Homo sapiens: one gene and its partner. The protein of the gene in region 1 binds, or shares a complex with, the protein of each later gene. Each region holds a gene or a part of one and is shown in the gene's direction. Other genes may lie near its edges.

What was found. Proteins that work in one complex are often made in the same cells at the same time.
Region 2: the proteins of PDCL3 (region 1) and CCT4 are in contact, whole or in part, in a cryo-EM structure (PDB 8I9Q), measured with the Homo sapiens proteins. Residues at the interface, in NP_076970.1 of Homo sapiens: Ala70, Ile71, Tyr74, Arg75, Arg78, Leu79, Trp82, Lys86; in NP_006421.2 of Homo sapiens: Val266, Gln271, Met272, Leu276, Glu279, Arg280, Leu312, His315.

Annotation. Positions count from the first base shown.
Region 1 is NC_000002.12:100,561,409-100,565,008, forward strand, and holds the start of PDCL3 (phosducin-like protein 3), read left to right. Parts: upstream 1-1,584; 5' UTR 1,585-1,659; coding exon 1,660-1,665; intron 1,666-1,896; exon of another isoform or gene 1,897-2,101; intron 2,102-3,600. UniProt on the Homo sapiens protein: Acts as a chaperone for the angiogenic VEGF receptor KDR/VEGFR2, increasing its abundance by inhibiting its ubiquitination and degradation.
Region 2 is NC_000002.12:61,886,527-61,890,342, reverse strand, and holds the start of CCT4 (T-complex protein 1 subunit delta), read left to right. Parts: upstream 1-1,686; 5' UTR 1,687-1,835; coding exon 1,836-1,962; intron 1,963-3,816. UniProt on the Homo sapiens protein: Component of the chaperonin-containing T-complex (TRiC), a molecular chaperone complex that assists the folding of actin, tubulin and other proteins upon ATP hydrolysis.

The DNA of each region.
Region 1 (3,600 bases):
TGGATTGGCTTTGGTTAGAATGCCTCTGACCGGATCATGTGGGGAAGAGCAACTGTAGAATAGCTGAGTCCTGGAAAACAGGCCTCAGGGAACAGCAAAGGCTGGGGATGAGGAAAGGACAAAACACCACCTGCTCTGTTGCTGTGCAGGACTGAGCAAGAAGCACAGGATCAAACTCAAAGTTAGTTCCAGTCCTGATTTTGGTGGTAAGACCCAAGGAAAATTCATTAACAAACATTGTGCTGCCAGATACATTAATAAATCCCTAAAAGGGCCTGTAATTCAGTTGAAATGAGTGAGAAAAATCTTAAGGATCCTTATAAATTAAATAAAAACTCCTTGCTCTCAAGCAATCATTTGATTCACTCTATATCAACGACTGTGCACTTTAGCATCACCTGAGGATCTTTAAGAAAGTATCTGTGCTAGGCCTCATTTCCAAGGATTTAATTTGTCTGGGGATGGAGCCCCAGGACATTCCTAGTTTTTGAGGGCTTCCAGGTGATTCTAATGCATAGCCACGGTTGGAAGCCCTGCGCCTATCTCACAGGTGTGTGGGTCTCTACTCTCTGTGTCCGCTTAGTTGCCAGGAGGCAGCAAGTTAGCCCACGTGTGCAAGATGCTTCCTTCCATACCAGGTAGGAATATTGCTCTCTTAAACTTGGAGTGTGCCTGGGCAGAAGCTCTGGAGCCCAATACCTGCATTTTACAAGTCAGATTGCTGCTTTTTGCTCAGTGCCTGTGTGCCTGCATACATGGGTCTCCTGATACTCAGGCACGGCAGATGACTTTCACCTTTGTTTTAGTGTTTTGCTCACTGCTGCATCTGCAGAGCCTAGAATGGTGCCTGGTACACAGCAGGCTCTCAATGTCTTATTAATGAGTTGCCTTTTCCAAGGCTGAAGTGATCGTGGGTGAATTCCAGAAGACCCTGCATCATTTTTATTTATTTATTTATTTAAGACGGAGTCTCGCTCTGTAACCCAGGCTGGAGTGCAGTGGAGAGATCTCAGCTCACTGCAAGCTCCGCCTCCCCCGTTCAAGCAATTCTTCTGCCTCAGCCTCCAGAGTAGCTGGGATTACAGGCAACCACCACTACGCCCGGCTAATTTTTTTGTATTTTTAGTAGAGACGGGGTTTCACCATGTTGGCCAGGCTGATCTCGAACTCCTGACCTCAAGTGATCCGCCCGCCTCGGCCTGGGATCACAGGCGTGTGCCACCGCGCCCGGCCTAGAGGCAATTTTCTATTTCTGACTTGTTAGGCTAGTCAGAGCGAGACGTCTTTACAGGTTTGGGCCGGCAGCTGGAAAAGGCACACGGCCCCGGGCTCCTCCTCCACCCAGCCCCACCCCTCCTCCGCTGAAGACCAGCCCTAATAAGGCAGCCACCAGAATTAGAACCAGGTCAAGTGCACTCCGAGCAGGACAGTAGGCAGATCCTATCTGGCGCATGCGAACGCTTCTGTGCCAGTTCCTTGAAGAGCAGGCGCAGACTCAAGGCTGTTGCTTCCGCCCTTACTCCCCGCCGCTCGTCCCTGGGCGGGGCGAAGGCTGGGCTGGGGGAAGAGGCGTGGCGGCGCTGTGCGCGTGCACAAAAGAGAGCTGAGGGGCGGGGGCGCTGCGGCACAGCTGGTTTGAGCAACTGAACTGGAAACAAGATGCAGGTGAGCTAGGACGGGTCTCGGGTCTGGGGGCTGCGGCCCGTTCCTTTGTCTCGTTAGGCCCGGGCGGGCAGTGGACGCCCGCCCTGGGGGAAGCTCCGGCGCCGCAGGCACGAGGGAGGCCCGGCGCGTCCAGGCCCTGCGCAGGCGCAGTGCGGGAGGCGGGCGTGGTCCCACCAGGACCCACGGCCTGGGCGTCCCCGCCTCGGTGTGCCGGGTCCCCCAAACCTCGTCCTCCGGGACTATGTCTTCTCGCGGTCTCTACCCACCCGGGCCTGTGAAGGTCTTGCCGGATCCCGCCTAACAAAAGTTACCTCCTCTCCTGAACTCCCCTAAGGCACACCTGGGCAGAGGTGTTAGGAAGCGGAGGGTCCGGCCTGGGGTCTTCCGCACGTAAAGCAGCGCCACAGCCGGTGTTCCTGGCTCCACTGAGAGCCAGGTGAGGGCTTAGTTACACCCTCTTCCCCCGAGCCCTGGGATCCGCTTGGGGCGTGTTCCCTATCTGACCGCTCGGGTTCCAGAGCTCCCCGCGAGGGTCCCTCTGTTTCGTCCTTTTTTTTTTTTTTATTAAAATAGGTAAAATAAATTATTTTTCTGTAGCTGCAATTTACTAGCGGAATTTGGTTAAAGCCTAAGGAGAATGAATGAAAACACCATGGAAATGGGCACTATTGTGGGTGAAAACCTATGCCAACTAAATTTTGTCACTGTCCAAAGATCCCGCAGTGGTCAGAAATTCTAATCTCTGCTTAGTGGCAGATGGAGAGGAGAGGGTGCGGGTTTTGCTGGGGAGGGAGGCATTAGGGGCTGGAGGGGAGGGCGTGTCTGCCAGGAGCCAGACACTGTTTTTTTTTTTTTTGAGACCGGGTCTTGCTCTGTTGCCCAGGCTGGAGTGCAGTGGCTCTGTCACAGCTCACTGCAACCTCGACCTCCCGGGGCTAAGCCATCCTCCCTTGTCAGCCTCCGGAGTAGCTGGGACCACAGGCGTGCACCCACCACTCTGGGCTAATTTTTTGTGCAGATGGGGTCTCCCTATGTTGCCCAGCCTCAGCCTCCCAAAGTGTTGGGATTACAGGATGAGCCACCGCACCTGGCCTAGACACTCTTAAATGGTGAAGTGGTAGCTTGAGGGCTGCCCTGGCCTCCTTTGCATTCCCTGTCCTTCAGGTCCCTTGAGGCCTTCCCTGACCACCCTGTAGAAAGGATTCTGCTCTTTTTGTTTGTTTGTTTGTTTGTTTCTTTTTGAGACAGAGTCTTGCTCTGTCGCCCAGGCTGGAGTGCAGTGGCGCGACCTCGGCTCACTGCAAGCTCCGCCTCTCCAGTTCACGCCATTCTCCTGCCTCAGCCTCCTGAGTAGCTGGGACTACAGGCGCCCGTCACCACTCCCGGGTAATTTTTTGTATTTTTAGTAGAGACAAGGTTTCACCATGTTAGCCAGAATTGTCTCGATCTCCTGACCTGGTGATCTGCCCGCCTAGGCCTTCCAAAGTGCTGGGATTATCGGCATGAGCCACCGCGCCCGGCCTCATTTTTCTTTTGATGTATCTCAGAACTGTTACACAGGGTTGGGGTTGGAGACCGATTATCCCGGTGCCCTTTTCACAGTGCTCCTGATTTCATATTCCAAAGCAAGCCTGAGCTCCATTAGCAGTGTTCTTGCCACACCATGCAAACCGGTGCTTGGGCAGCTGGGTTCTAGATCTAAGAGCCACTTTTACATCAGTCTTTGTGACAATGATCCTTTGTGATTTTGATGCTGGCTGATTTGGCCAGCCGTTCTAGCATGGCAGTGCCTCTAAATGCCGTGCCTCTCCTAGGCTTGTGAGGATTCAGGGACAAGGTACAAGAAAAAGGGCTTAGAGTGCCCTGTATTTTATGAGCTACTCTGAGACGTCTCAGCTTTTCCTCTCAGGTTTGGCCATTAGAGAATTCTGTCAG
Region 2 (3,816 bases), about 39 Mb from region 1:
GAGGCTGAGGCAGGAGAATCGCTTGAACCCGGGAGGCGGAGGTTGCGGTGAGCCGAGATGGTGCCACTGCTCCAGCCTGGGCAACAAGAGTGAAACTCCGTCTCAAAAACAAACAAAAACAAACAAACAAACAACACCACCACCACCTCATAATTACAAGATTAAGTACCTTTGAACATTTGTTTCTGAACCTACCACACGCAACTGTCACTTTGCAGGTGCTTAATAATTGTGAGCGAACATTCAACAAACCTCATTTCATAAACTTCCCTACTGAAATATAGTGGTCATAGGAGACCAGCAGTTTAGCTCATGGCTTCTGGTCCTTGCTTTGTATTGGAATACTGCTTCTATCTACTGACTCGTTTACCCTGGGCTTCAGTTCCTTCTTTGGGCTCCAGTTCTCTCACCTTTTAAGTAAAGGATTATTGTGAGGACTAAACGAGATATAAAACGTGTAAAGGTTTAGCACTGTGCTTAGCAGATAACGGAAATAAATGATCTTTATTATAATGTTTACGTTCCCTAAGAGTCAGTGGCTACGTCATGCAGGAGACACTAGTGTAGAACAAGCGGGCGGTGGTAACTAGACAGACCTGATTTGGCAGTCTGTCAAACCTCCACCACCCAGTATCAACCAATACGAGATAACTAACCTCGCCTCATTCCAAATCTCCCTTTTCTGACTCCCTTTCAAAATGAACAAAACTGCATAAAATGCAGGTCTATGTGGCCGGGCAAAAACAGACTCAGTCATATCCCTTAGAGAGTTATTCCGGCGCCCACCCCACCTCGCGGATAGATCCAGCCGGAGTTAAAGGAGGGCACCTCCGGGTGGGCGCGGTGGCTCACGCCTGTAATCCCAGTACTTTGAAACGCTGAGGAGGGTGGACCGCTTTGAGCCGGGGAGGTCAGACCAGCCTGGGCAACACAGCGAAACCCAGTCTCGCTATGTTTCGAATACAAAAATTCGCTAGGCATGGTGGCGGGCACCTGTCGTCCTGGCTAGTTGGGAGGCTGTGGCGGGAGGATCGCTTGGGCCCCGGAGGTCGAGGCTGCAGTGAGCCAAGATCGCCCCACTGCACTCCCGCCTGGACGACAGAGCGAGACTCTGTCAAAAAAAAAAAAAAAAAAAAAAAAGGCCGGGCTTCGTGGCTGACGCCTGTAATCCCAACACTTTGGGAGCCCGAGGCGGGTGGATCACCTGAGGTCGGGAGTTCGAGACCGGCCTGGCCAACATGGTGAAACCCTGTCTCTACTAAAAATACAAAAATTAGCTGGGCATGGTGGCGGACGCCTGTAATCCCAGCTACTCGGGAGGCTGAGGAGGATCGCTTGAACCTGGGAGGCGGAGGCTGCAGTGAGCCGAGATTTTGCGCCACTGCACTCCAGCCTGGGCAACAGAGTGAGACTGTATCCAAAAAAAGAAAAAAAAAAAAAAAAAAAGGAGGGGACCTCATAGCCGTGCAAGGTGGAGTGAGGAAATGCGGATGTCCTCACCACTCGCCTTTAAAATCGCGCGTTGTCATTGCTGCCTCGCGTAAAGGTTCCCCCGGCGCTCTTCACCCACAGCGCCCCGGGCGTACAATCTCGCCAGCCCGGAGCCCACCGCACGCATCCTCCTCGCCCGGCGCGCAGCGGACAGCCTCCTACGTCACGCCAGCGCCGCGCGGCAAGGAAGGCCCCCTTCTCCGCCTCCGCCTCCTCCCGACGCCGGCGCCGCTTTCTGGAAGGTTCGTGAAGGCAGTGAGGGCTTACCGTTATTACACTGCGGCCGGCCAGAATCCGGGTCCATCCGTCCTTCCCGAGCCAACCCAGACACAGCGGAGTTTGCCATGCCCGAGAATGTGGCACCCCGGAGCGGGGCGACTGCCGGGGCTGCCGGCGGCCGCGGGAAAGGCGCCTATCAGGACCGCGACAAGCCAGCCCAGATCCGCTTCAGCAACATTTCCGCCGCCAAAGGTATCACTCTCATGGCCTGACCCGCGGCGCCGCGGGGTTGTGCTCTGCGCTCTCATCGTGGGCTTGAGCGGGTTTGGCTCATTTCCCATTTCTTCGGGTGATCCTCTCTTGTCCTCCCTATAGAAGCAGCCCAGTGGAGGGATCCTTATTTCTGTTTTTCTGCCGATGATCGCCAACCCGGAGTATGGAGGCCTTTGGACTTGCCCCATTTTGCATCTTAATCTCCCTTAGTTTTTCATCCTGCACTGTGCATCATTCATATTGGAGCCGAAAGCAGTTCAAAATGCCGAGGATTGCATGCAGTCTTCACTAGGGATCTGACGCTTGAGGGCTGTCGCTTATTGCTTATTGGAACTGGTAGAATGCACAGTATCTTTCAGCTTTGTTATTCTTATTTAAAGAACTATTAAATAAACTTCACTTGGCACAACTGTTGAGACGAATTGGGTGAACTCTCCGAGTCTAAATTGGGGCGGGGCCCATTGTACTGGGATGGATGTGGGAACCGACTTACGTGTCGTGTTTGAAATAGTTGCGGAAAAGTTACGTTGATGTCGTCTCCGCATGTGCAGTGAAACATAGGCAAATCAAGAAACAATTATTTGTTTTTTTTGTGGAAGTGTGTGGCACACGTTGGAAATCAGGAAGACCAGAGTTTCATTCTCTGCTTCCGTTACTTCATGTCTTAGTGACCTGTAACCTCTGTGCCAAAGATTCACTTATAAAATTGGAGGAAAATGTTTGCTTTTTAGAGTTAAGATTAAGAGAAATCGAGTTGAAATAGAAAAATCTGGAAGGAAAAGTCAGGACAGAGGTTTAGAGATCTTGCCCGAGTGTATATTGAGTATAGTAGTTCTTTTGGGTTGGAGAATAGTAGTATGTTTACAGAAGAGGTGAGATTAGAAAGCTAGGTTGGGGCAGATGTTAAAGGCCTGGTGTCCTGGAAAGTATTTGGCTTAATCTCCCCCAGCTATGGGATCATTTCTTTTTAGCCATCGTGTAGGCTTGCTGTGAGGATTCAGTGAGAAAGCATATAAAGACCCACGTATATAAAGTACACCTTACATGTGTTTGCAGTCATCAGCCCAAGTAACTGGGAATGTGATGGCGCTAAGATAGGTAACGCTGGATGTAAGAAAAAGTAATAGTTTCTAACTTGTCCTAATGAGTTGGAAAGGTCAGAATGGCCAGATTTAGGAGTCATTTGTAAGTTTAGGAGATAATACACCTGGAAACGAAGGTTTGTAGGATAATTGTCTAGGGACCATAGTTGAAGCTTACATTTATTAGATTAGGAACAGAATGTTGAAAGATAAATTTTGGGTCGGGCAGGGTGGCTCACGTCTGTAATCCCAGCAATTTGGGAGGCTGAGGCTGGCGGATCACATGAGGTCAGGAGTTCAAGACCAGCCTGACCAACATGGAGAAACCCCGTCTCTACTAAAAATACAAAATTAGGTGGGTGTGTTGGCGTAGGCCTGTAGTCCCAGCTACTCGGGAGGCTGAGGCAGGGGAATAGCTTGAACCTGGGAGGCGGAGGTTGCCGTGAACTGACGTCGCGCCATTGCACTCCAGCCAGGGTGACGAGCGAAACTCCGTCTCAAAAAAAAAAAAAGATAAATTTGGGGGCCAAGAGAGTTTATAATATGGTTGATATTCAACAAACAAAATAAGTGGGAAATTTAGCAACCTTTGAAACAAAAGCAGACAAAGAACTGAAACAACAGAGGAGGGTGTGCATGTGGGAAGGAAAGGCCACCTAAGTTATCTGTGAAGATGACCCGTTATGTCTTAAACTCCTGGCCTCAAGTGACGGCCTGCCTTGGCTTCGCAAAGCGCTGGGATTACAGGCGT